3 linked regions of the Homo sapiens genome follow. The protein of the gene in region 2 purifies or fractionates together with the protein of the main gene of each other region. This does not show direct contact. Each region holds a gene or a part of one and is shown on either strand. Other genes may lie near its edges.

Region 1 (3,649 bases), on a different chromosome or scaffold from region 2:
TATTATCTTAATTTCTTCTTTTAATACCATGCCTCGGGGTGTACCTACCAGATGAGCTGATCGTTATAGAGAAAAGCAGTGTATTTGACTATATTCAGGCTTTCCTCCATTCTATTAATAAAGGACTGGATTTTCAAATAAGTCATTTTATCCAACGGGAAGAAGCTGATTCCACCAAAAATGTCAAGTAGGTCACATGACTGCAAATGTAGCGTTTGCAAATACTGTGGGAAAAAAAATAAGGCATAAAATTTACTAATAGTACACTGAATATAATGCTCCTTGATAACTGAAAATAATCTTATGTCAGACTCACATTTATGGTACAATTACATACTAGCAAACAGCGCAACAATGAGGCCGTGGTGAAGACATGGGTAACTGAGTGCCAACTCAGTCTCAGTACCAATTCCAAGATACAAAGTTCAAACATATCTACTTAATGTTTATTCAGTATTGTGTTTTACTGCTTTAAATTTATTTTTTTGTGACAGAGTCTTGCTCTGTCATCCAGGCTGGAGTGCAGTGGTGCGATCTCAGCTCACTGCAAGCTCCGCCTTCCAGGTTCACACCATTCTCCTGCCTCAGCCTCCTGAGCAGCTGGGACTACAGGCGCCTGCCACCATGCCCAGCTATTTTTTTCCATTTTTAGTAGAGATGGGGTTTCACCATGTTAGCCAGGATGGTCTCAATCTCCTGACTCGTGATCTGCCTGCCTCGGCCTCCCAAAGTGCTGGGATTAGAGGTGTGAGCCACCACGCCTGGCCAAAAATTTTTTTTTTTTTTTTTGGTATAGACAGAGTCTTGCTATGTTGCCTAGGCTGGTCTTGAACTTCTGGCCTCCGTGATTCTCGTGTCTAGGCGTCCCAAAGCGCTGGGAATACAGGCATGAGCCACTGTGCCCAGCTAGCACTTTCAAGTTTTTAATTCCTGGCCAGGCACAGCGGCTCGCGCCTGTAATCCCAGCCCTTTGGGAGGCCAAGGCGGGCACATCACTTGAGGTCAGGAGTTTGAGACCAGCCTCGCCAACATGACAAAACCCCGTCTCTAATAAAATTACAACATTAGCCGGGCGTGGTAGCCTGTAATCCCAACTATTCAGGAGGCTGAGACAGGAGAATCACTTGAACTTGGGAGACTAAGGTTGCAGTGAGCCAAGATCACACCATTGCACTCTAGCCTGGGTGACAAGAGTAAGATTCTGTCTCAAAAAAAAAAAAAAAAAAAAATTAACTCCCTGCCTTAATGCTCTTCAAATTAGACTAACCTAATGAGGGATCTATCCATTAATACTACAGAGAGTGCCATCTTTATTTCCCCCCCCGAGATGGAGTCTTGGTCTGTCACCCAGGCTGGAGTGCAGCGGTGTGATCTCGGCTCACTGCAACCTCGCCTCCGGGGTTCAAGCGATTCTCCTGCCTCAGCCTCCAGAATAGCTGGGATTACAGGCGTGCGCCACCACGCCCAGCTAGTTTTTTGGTATTTTTTAGTAGAGATGAGGTTTCACCATGTTGGCCAGGCTGGTCTCGAACTCATGACCTCAAGATCTGCCCGCATCGGCCTCCCAAAGTGGTGGGATCACAGGCGTAAGCCACCACACCCAGCCAAGAGTGCCATCTTATACTAAAATCATGTCTAAATGATATGTACTCAGGACAACAGTTCTATCCATATGTTGATGGGTAAGAGAGAAATGAGGACAAGAACAGAAACCAGGAGATAATATGCGAGTGGATAACTGTGGTCATTAAAATGACAAAACAAAGAAAAGTAATTCAGAGAAACAAAAAAATTCAAAAATAGCTATGAAAGCTGTTTTAGAAAGTCGAATTCAAAAATAGATACAGAAGGTATTTTCAGAAGAAAATAAATTGAGAATTGTTGCTTCGAGATAAACTAGGCTGGGCGAGTTGGCTCATGCCTTTAACCCCAGCACTTTGGGAGGCCAAGGAGGGAAGATCGCTTGAAACCAGCCTGGGCAAAACAACCAAGACAAGACCCTGTCTCTTTGTTTCCTTTTAAAAAAAAGATAAACTGAGCTTGACAAGGTAGGGTGAAACATGCAAAATTCAATTACAACGAAAGAGGACAGCACTTGGAACAAATCTCCCCAATCGCTAATCTGACAAAGTCTGTCAAGGCCAGTAACTCTTACCTACATCAAGACGGTTCACGCCCGTTTAGTGAACAGAACCAATCCCTGAGATTGTGCAACTCCAATAATTAAGTTTTCCTTATCAACTAATCTATCACACAAAAGATGGCTGCTGAGTAAGCCCAGAAGGACAGATGCAGGTAAAACACAGGGAGGCCAAACGATGTCTCCAGGACCCTTTAAGAGCCCCGGGCAAACGCAGGAAGCTCTGCCTTACACCACAGCTGGAGGGAAGGTTCCAGAGCACAAGCCTCATGCGTTTCCTCGCTGCTCCAGTTTTGCGACGGTCTGTCTCAGGCTCTTTGCCACTTTCAAGTTCTGGGTTTTTTGTATATAAGAAACAAACTTGTCTGTCTATATTTCTCTAAAAACCTGCTGAATGCTTACTAAAGTTATAAATGAAATTCAAAATACTTACCCGATGGAAGAATTTCTCTAATCTTTCTTTCAGAAGCTTGACGCCTCCGTCTTCCATGGCTTTCAGAAATGTACCATTAAAAAGCTAGTGAGGTAAAAGATTGCAGGAAAAAAAATCAGTTTCCTATGCTCACTTTTTCAGTATAACAAGTTCTTTTTTTCCTTTAGATTATTAATTCAGCTCATTAAATCTCCCAGTTCTTTCCAACAGAGAATATTTACATGAGAAAACTTGAGTTAAAAATGTAAGTTACAAAAAATACTGTTAAGTGATGCTGTCTTATTTATGAAACCACCTAATTGCTCTAGGCATCTTTCAAAAATTTCAACTTACCCTGAAGTTTCAATTTACATACATAATATCACCCACATTTCTGTTTTTTTATTTTTCAGTGTTCTGTTAATAAATGGAATCACCAAACTTTTTATCCTTTTTTTTTTTTTTTTTGAGATGGAATCTCGCTCTGTTGCCCAGGGTAGAGTGCAGTGGTGCAATCACAGTTCACTGCAGCCTCGACCTCCAAGGCGCGAGCGATCCTCCCACCTCAGCCTCCCAGGTAGCTGGGACTACAGGCATGCACCATGATACCTGGCTAACTTTTATAAAAATTTTTTGTAGAGATGGGTTCTTGCTATATTGCCCAGACTGGTCCTGAACTCCTGGGCTCAAGCAATCCTCCCACCTTAGCCTCCCAGAATGCTGAAATTACAGGTGTGATCCACTGTGCCCTGCCTCACTGAAACTTTTAAATCATAAAATTATCTGCATTCTGTACATTCCTTGAGCACATAGACACACTTTTTCATCAATGGGGACACATTCCTACTATAAGGCTGAGAAAAGAGAAGGGAGTTCAATACTTACTGAATAAATGTAGGCATAAACCTCACTACCTGTTTCAAAGGCCTCATTATTTTCTTCTCTAAGACAAATACAGAGTCACTTTGCAGTCATTTACAGATTTCTCTTTAAACAACCCTGGAGCCTAGAGATAGGGGTAAGTGGCTGGACTCTGAGTTGAGAAAGAACGCCACGCTTACCTTGTACATGCTGTAGCACTGCCGCAGCACCGAGCT
Region 2 (3,937 bases):
AGTTCTCAATGTACTTGGCTTAGTAGAAACAATTGTAAGGAACCTCCAGCTTTCCCACAAATGAGACACAAACTACCGTAGCTGCATGGGCAAATACAGAAGCTAAGTAACCTTGCCTCCCCTGTTCCTTCTGCCTTCTTTTCTGAGTCTTACCCAGGTCACCTTCTCCTTCCTGGCCATGAGATTCCTCTCTCAGACCTGGGACGGGTCCTCCCCTGCTTTTGTGAAAGACCGGAGGGAAGCAGGTGCTGGAGGAGCTTGATGCTTCACAGCTCTGAGTGGATGTTTACCTGCCAATCTAGCAGATGCCTGAGAGGTGATCACAGGGGTACAGAATAGGGGACAGACATCGCCTTGGCCAGTGCCTGGGAGGGGCCTCAATTCCACCCACCAGGGGTTCCTTTCCAGGCCCTGTTGGATACCTCCAATGACATAGTGGCCCTGAGTTTCCACCCACTGGGAGCAGCCCTCCCCTAGGATCTCCACCTTCAGGGCCAAGCATGGACTGGAACACTAAGAAGGAAACAACAGGCCATCTTCCTCTCTTTCTCTCATTAAATCGTGAATAATAATGCATTTACTTATTCTCCCACTTAAAATGTTTAAATCCTTTGAAGAATCTTGCAAGGTAGCTTGGCTAGACAGCAGGCAGGACAGTCCAGTGCCTCTGGTGGAGGAGCCAGGGTCTTCCACTTGCCTGTCTTTTGGTCCAGCAAGAAGGCATTTGGATTGATGGTGTAGTCCTTTGTCTGGACATCGCTGGCAGTGGTGACACCCCCACATACAAACACCTTGCTGTCTCCAATGGAGCATATAGCATGGGACACATCCAAGGGGCAGCTGTTGGGCAAGACAGGCACTGAGGTGGTCGTCTTGCTTGCCTTCACCTTCTGCAGATTGATTTCCACACTCTGCCGGTGGCTGTGCACGCAGAGGATGTTGTCCTGTTGGAAAGAGAGCAGGGGCCGATGGTTGAACTCAATGGGGAAGGTGATACACTGGACCACGTCCCCAGTGCTGGTGTCAAAGCAGTCCACTACCCCGACCCGGGAGATATAACCTTTCACCAAGCACCGTCCAGTGACAATGTACAGATGCCTGTCTCCTTTAGTGATCACGGCGGTGCCATCCATGGGGATGCTCATCTTTCCTGCCAGGCACCAGACTTCCTTCCGCTCATCATAGCGATAGATGTTGGAGACATACCGCCTTGGGGCAATGCTCCCGCCCACTGAGTACACTGTCCCCCCACAGGTCACCATGGTGTGGAAGACAAGCCCGATGGGCAGGTCAGGCAACTTGGTCCAGGAGTTGTCATCCATGTCATACCGCCAGGCTGTCTTCAGCCCTGAAATCTGCTCAGTGGTGCCACCAGAGATGTAGATGTAGCGACCAGCAGAGGTGGCACTAAGTGCTGCTGCCCGATAGGGCATGTCTGAGAGCTTCATCCACAGGTTCTCCTGGATGATATAAGCAAACACTCCATCATTGAACTGGCCGTGGGCCTTCTGGCCACCGAGGATGACCACGGAATCAAGCAGGGCCCCTTTCCGCTGGTAGACCAGCAGGCTGCATGGCCGCTCCTGCTTGCGGTCCATCAGGACACTCTCAATCAGGGTTGTATGGGATGAGGTGTTCTCCATGCCCACCAGCTTGTTGCTGGCAAACACCAGCGTCTTATTGGAGACAGCATTGAGATTGATGTAATTGAAGAACTTCTTGAAATACTTCTCCCGATCCTCCTTCCGGAAGTACACCCAATTGATGAGTGCGCTGAGCGCCTGGTCTTCATTGAGCACGTGAAGGTTTTCATCACGGAGCAGGCGGCCAAAGATAACAGGTGGACAGCGCATGAAGTGCATGGAGCCCTCAGGACTGGCCCAGTAGTGGAAGTTGTCCCGAATGCCAGAGTAAGCTACGTCTGATACCTCTTTGAGCTCAAACAGCTCAGCCAAGAAGAGGTAGCGCAAGCAGTTGGCACGGCAGATGGACTTAATAAGGAAGTCGTTACAGTGAACTCGAAGGCGTGGTGTGTTGAAATACTGAGCCCCACGAAGCAGCTCCTCCACATTTTGCTCGGAGATCACCACCTTGCCGCTATAGAAGTAGTCCAGAAGCTGGTCCACTGTGACCGGGCTCAGGTAACTGGTGTCAATGGTGATGAAAAGCTCATCAGCGGTCTTCATGTCATTGCTGGAGATGAGGCTCCTCACCAGTGGGGAGACAGCAGCCAGCACATTGCGATGTGCAAAGAAGACGTGGTTGTCCACACTCAGGGCCATGTCCCAGTACTCTTTGCGTTTCCTCTGTCTGTTCAGGTTCTGCAGCACGAAGCTATTGTAGTTTTTCTCCGTGAATTCCAATTTCATGGTGCCTCTTGTCGGCTGAAACAGATCAGCAGCAGGTACTGGAGAGCAGACTTTCTCAGGCCTGTGGGATCAGATTGATGGTTGTTTGCAGAGCGGTTGACCAGGGAGAAGAGAGGGTGGAAGAGAGGATGATGTCATAGAGTGGATCAGGTCATCACAATGCAGGCCTCCCTGAGGCCTGTCTCAGAGGCACTGGGCCTTCCTCCCCTCTGATCTCTCCAACCTGCCAAGGCCACATACCCTAGCAGGACCTAAAGCCCTGGGCCCAGAGCTCAGGAGGAACCTCAGGGATGGGCGGCAACTTCCACCTGGGACTTTCAAACCGTAGTTAAAGGCTTCTGGAATATCAGAGCCAGTCTGGGTGGGGCAGTGGGGAGCAGTTTGTGTAGGAGAGATAAGGGGAGGTGGGGAAAGGGAAGAGATTATTAGACCTAGAAGAATCCTCCCATTTTGAGGGAAACTGAGGCCCAGAGAAGAGAAGGCACTTGCCCAAAATCACATAGCCAGTTGGAAGCCGAGCAGGGCCCAGAACCTGGGGAACCTCGCATTCTTCCTACCCTTCTGGAAGCTCCTGACTACCCAGCTTTCCCCAGTCTCTGACTCTCAACTCTCCAAGCACTCTTCCTGCCAAGGCTCCTGGGCATCAGAGAAAAGCTCTGTCCTTTGGCTTCTGACCTTGGTGGCCACAGACATCATTCTCCTTCAAAATGGAGAGGTGGAGGCCACTCCCTGGAGCAGGGATGAAGGAGTTAACCACAAACGGGGGCATGGGAGGGTCTTTAAAGACCGGATGATTTCAGCTCCTTGGCAAACTAGAATGTTCCCCCAACATTTCCAAGTGTCCAGTTGGAAAATGTTGGGGGCTTCAGTGGGTCAGCTTTCTCCATCAAAGGTGGACTTGGGCGAGTTGATCAGACTTTCTAAACCTCAGTTTCCTCCTCTGTGAGATGGAACTAATATTTGATAGTAGTACCCACTTCAAAGATTATTATGAGTTTATTTTTATTTTTATTTTTATTTTTTTGAGACAGAGTCTCGCTCTGTCACCCAGGTTGGAGTGCAGTGGTGCGATCTCAGCTTGAAACAGCCTTTGCAAAATTATGACTGAGACAGTGAAAGAGATCAACTTAACTGACTCCATCTTGCTTCTAACCTCCAAGCTGTCCTTGCTCATTCCTTGGCAAAGGCTGAACTAACTTTGGGAGAAACCTATATGTATAGTTTACGGTTTAAACAAAGACAGCCCTTTCCCAAAGCAGACCTCCTTCTTGCCTGGGGACTAGATTGCCTTTGTAGGACTAACATTAGCCACAAGATTAGAAATTATGGTTTAGGAGTCATGTAGCTGGAGGCTACAAGATTCTAACCCTCCCTAAACTGCTCCTAAGACCAGTGCTTGAGATTTCTCTTTTTTTTTTTTTTTAGACAGTTTCGCTCTTCTTGCCCAGGCCGGAGTGCAATGGTGCGTTCTCGGCTCACCACAACCTCCAACTCCCGGGTTCAAGCGTTTCTCCTGCCTCAGCCTCCTGAGTAGCTGGGATTACAGGCATGCACCACCACACCCGGCT
Region 3 (3,649 bases), on a different chromosome or scaffold from region 2:
ACTGTAGCCTCGACCTCCTGGGTTCAAGTGATCTTCCCACCTTGGCCTCCTAAGTCGCTGGGACTGCCAGTACACACCGCCGGACCCAGCTAATGTTTTTGTGGTTGTTTGTTTAGACAGGGTCTCACTATGTTGCCCGGGCTGGTGTCAAACTCCTGGGCTCAAGCGATCCACCCATCTTAGCCTCCCAAAGTGCTGGGATTTCGGGCGTGAGCCCCCACACCCAGCCCATTAAATGATAAATGTGTTGTCATAAGCAATATAGAGGCATAGAGAGGAGCCCTGTTCCCCATCTGGGACCCCCCTGTCTCCTTAACTAGCCAGTGCTCATATTTTTTAAGTCCTAGTTTTCCCGCTAGTCAGCAGTAGAGTGTGGGCATCTTTCTGTGTCCCACCGACTGCGAGCTGGAGACAGCAGTGGTACCTCTCTCGGGGGGGTTCTGAGGATCGAATGAGGTCATGTCTGTGAAGCACCTGGCCCATGAGTGCTACGTAATGTTTGTTAAATAAACATACGACCTTCTGAGGTCTTTCTGGGGTAGGCAACCGTTTACCACCCTACAGGGTGTGCCTCGGTCAGCTTTTCACGGTGAGATAGGTCTTCGCCCTTTTTTCATCTGAAATGTAACCGGTTTTCTATCTTCTGTTTCTCTTCTATTTGAGGAGCAGAAGGGGGCCTGAGCATTCATTGTTTGTTTTCCCAGACCAGTGAAGTTTTCGTTTGAATACTGTTGTTCAGTGTCGCACAGTAAAATGAATCTTACTGGTATTTTTTGTCATGACTTGCCAGCCTCTGTCCACCCAACGTTGGATTTTTGCCGAAGACTGGACAGCATCGTTGGGCCCCAGCTCACAGTGCTGGCCTCTGACATCTGTGAACAGTTTAACATCAACAAGAGGATGTCTGGGTTTGTACTTTGCTTTCGGTTCACTTTCAGGCATTGAACGGCTTTTGAAATACACGTAGTTTTCACTTACAAATACGGGTGGTATTAACAGTCCTGTGTTCTCGTGGACTGTAGAGGATGGTGCTACGTGCCATTCAGGCCTCTGTCTGAAAGGGTCCCGGGGACAGTCACCCTGAGTGTTTCTGCCCCACGCTGGCAGCTGGGGCTGGGCCTTCTGGTAAATACCTTCCCTCAGCTCCCCCCGAATGGAACGTCCCATTTCACCAGCCCAGATTGTTACGTTCACTTGGACAGTAGTCATCGGCGTGGTCTTGGTGTGCACAGACTGAAAGCATTTTGCCTCTCGTTGTGTGAAAATGTGTAGGGGAAACTGGCTGGGATGTGGGGCACTGGGCCTGGGTACTCAGTCTGGCAGCCTGAAGTGTCTACACTGAGTGGGAGAGGCGGGATTCACTCCTCCGGCTCTCTAGACACTGAAATGTCCTTGAATTCTTTCTCCCTGGCTTTTTTTTTGAGACAAATTCCCACTCTGTCGCCCAGGCTGGAGTGTGCAGTGGCTTGATCTTGGCTCACTGCAGCCTCCGCCTCCCAGGCTCAAGCGATTCTCATGCCTCATCCTCTTGAGTAGCTGGGATTACAGGCGTGCACCACCATGCCCGGCTCCTTTTTGTATTTTTAGTAGAGACGGTTTCACCATGTTGGCCAGATTGGTCTTGAACTCCTGACCTCAAGTGATCCACCTGCCTCAGCCTCCCAAAGTGCTGGGATTACAGGTGTGAGCTACCGCACCCGGCCATGCCTATCTTTTCTCAATATAAAATAGTTATTATAAAGTGAAAGTGAGGCGATGGAAAGCACTTTGCGAAGTTGAAGTCCTGCTTTTAAATGGGCTCTCTACACATTTGAGAAGTTACTAAAAGGCTGTGAATTTCTGCATACGCTCATGGTCTTAATGTTCATACGTTGTTTTTTGGGTTTTTTTTTTTTTTTTAAGACAGAGTCTCAGTTGCCCAGGCTGGAGTGTGCAATGGTCTGTTCTCAGCTCACTGCAACCTCCGCCTCCCAGGTTCAAGCGATTCTCCTGCCTCAGCCTCCTGAGTAGCTGGGTGCCATCATGCCTGGCTAATTTTTGTATTTTTGTAGAGACTGGGTTTTACCATGTTGGTCAGACTGGTCTCGAACTCCTGACCTCGTGATCCACGCACTTCGGCCTCCCAAAGTGCTGGGATGACAGGCGTGAGCCACCGCGCCCGGCCCATATGTTATTTCTGCATGGTCTTGTATAACCGTGGGCCTCTAAGAGCGCAGAAGCGAGCAAAGGTGAAAGCACCTCTAGGTTTTGTACAACAGTGTGTGGATTACTGCTGTCAACAGCTTACATCTTTGTTGCTTTTTGTTTTTATTTTTTGAGACAGAGTTTCACTCTTTCACCCAGGCTGGAGTGCAGTGGCATGATCTCAGCTCACTGCAACCTCCAGCCCCTGAGTTCATTCAAGCAATTCTCCTGCCTCAGCCTCCCGAGTAGCTGGGACTCCAGGCGTGTGCCACCACACTCAGCTAATAATTTTTGTATTTTTAGTAGAGACAGGGTTTTGCCATGTTGGCCAGGCTGGTCTTGAACTCCTGACCTCAGGTGATCCACCCACCTCGGCCTTCCAAAGTGCTAGCATTACAGGCATGAGCCACCATGCCCAGCCAACAGCTTATATCTTGACAGTGCTGCTGAATCATTGAATCCTTTGGCCGTGAAAATACCAGGTTTTCCTTTGTGAAGGAGGCAAAAGTGAGTTAAATCGGTTTGGATCATGCAGGTTATCAACTAACAGATGGAAAGTGACAAAGTGTAGTGACCATAGAGAACGTGTCACCTGTTTTGTTTTTTTGTGGGTTTGTTTTTGGAGACAGGGTCTCCTGCTGTCGCCCAGGCTGGAGTGCAGTGGTGCAATCATGGCTCACTGCAGCCTTGACCTCCCAGGCTGTAAGTGAGCCTCCTACCTCAGCCTCCCCGGGAGCTAGGACTACAGGTGTGTGCCACCACGCCTGGCTAATTTTTGTATTTTTGGTAGAGGCGGGGTTTCGCCATGTGGCCTAGGCTGATCTCGAACTCCTGACCTCAAGTGATTTGCCTGCCTCAGCCTCCCAAAGTGCTGGGATTATAGGCGTGAGCCACTGCTCCTGGCCTCACAGAGTGTTTTGAGGATAGAAGCTTACACCCGATTTAAGTTCCTTGTCTACCCAGACAACTAAATTTACAACTCTTTCCAAACAGTTTTTCTTGTCATTATACTTTCCTTAACCTTAGGGAACTATGAAAACAAATTCTGGTTTTATAAGAAGTTTCTTTACATGTTCCTGGAAACTCAATCCTCCACGTTCTTTCTTTGCCTGGACGTAGAGTATTTCATGAGTACCCCATTGGTCCGGAGGTCGGATTTCTGGTACCCCCAGCCCTCCAGAACGTGGCTGCTAACCCTGAAGCAAGCAGAGGAGGCCTCTGAGCCCAGGGGCGGGGCTGTGCTCAGGCCCCATCCAGGCCCCAGGGTGGACACTGAGGGTGCAGGGAGGGGAGGGGAGGGGCCCCAGGAGCAGTGAGGCCCAGCTTTTCCCACTAGGTCCCCGAGGAGGTCACAGACTCTGACCTGGGAGGCAGCGTCGTAGCACTGCCTAGTCAGTTTAAGAAATAAAAAGGTATATCCCATTTAAAATGTTCATCAGACTGCAGTGGAAAAGGCGACTGCGTT

Evidence for each region.
Region 1: the proteins of CCIN (region 2) and CCZ1 purify together in Homo sapiens (affinity purification with mass spectrometry, with the first as the bait; one large-scale study listed by BioGRID). This does not show direct contact.
Region 3: the proteins of CCIN (region 2) and CCZ1B purify together in Homo sapiens (co-immunoprecipitation; one large-scale study listed by IntAct). This does not show direct contact.

The regions. Positions count from the first base shown.
Region 1 is NC_000007.14:5,901,669-5,905,317, reverse strand, and holds part of CCZ1 (vacuolar fusion protein CCZ1 homolog), read right to left. Parts: coding exon 3,614-3,649; intron 2,658-3,613; coding exon 2,574-2,657; intron 225-2,573; coding exon 49-224; intron 1-48. UniProt on the Homo sapiens protein: Acts in concert with MON1A, as a guanine exchange factor (GEF) for RAB7, promotes the exchange of GDP to GTP, converting it from an inactive GDP-bound form into an active GTP-bound form.
Region 2 is NC_000009.12:36,167,935-36,171,871, reverse strand, and holds CCIN (calicin), read right to left. Parts: upstream 2,485-3,937; 5' UTR 2,370-2,484; coding exon 603-2,369; 3' UTR 538-602; downstream 1-537. UniProt on the Homo sapiens protein: Required for both nuclear and acrosomal shaping during spermiogenesis.
Region 3 is NC_000007.14:6,802,197-6,805,845, reverse strand, and holds part of CCZ1B (vacuolar fusion protein CCZ1 homolog B), read left to right. Parts: intron 1-790; coding exon 791-908; intron 909-3,649.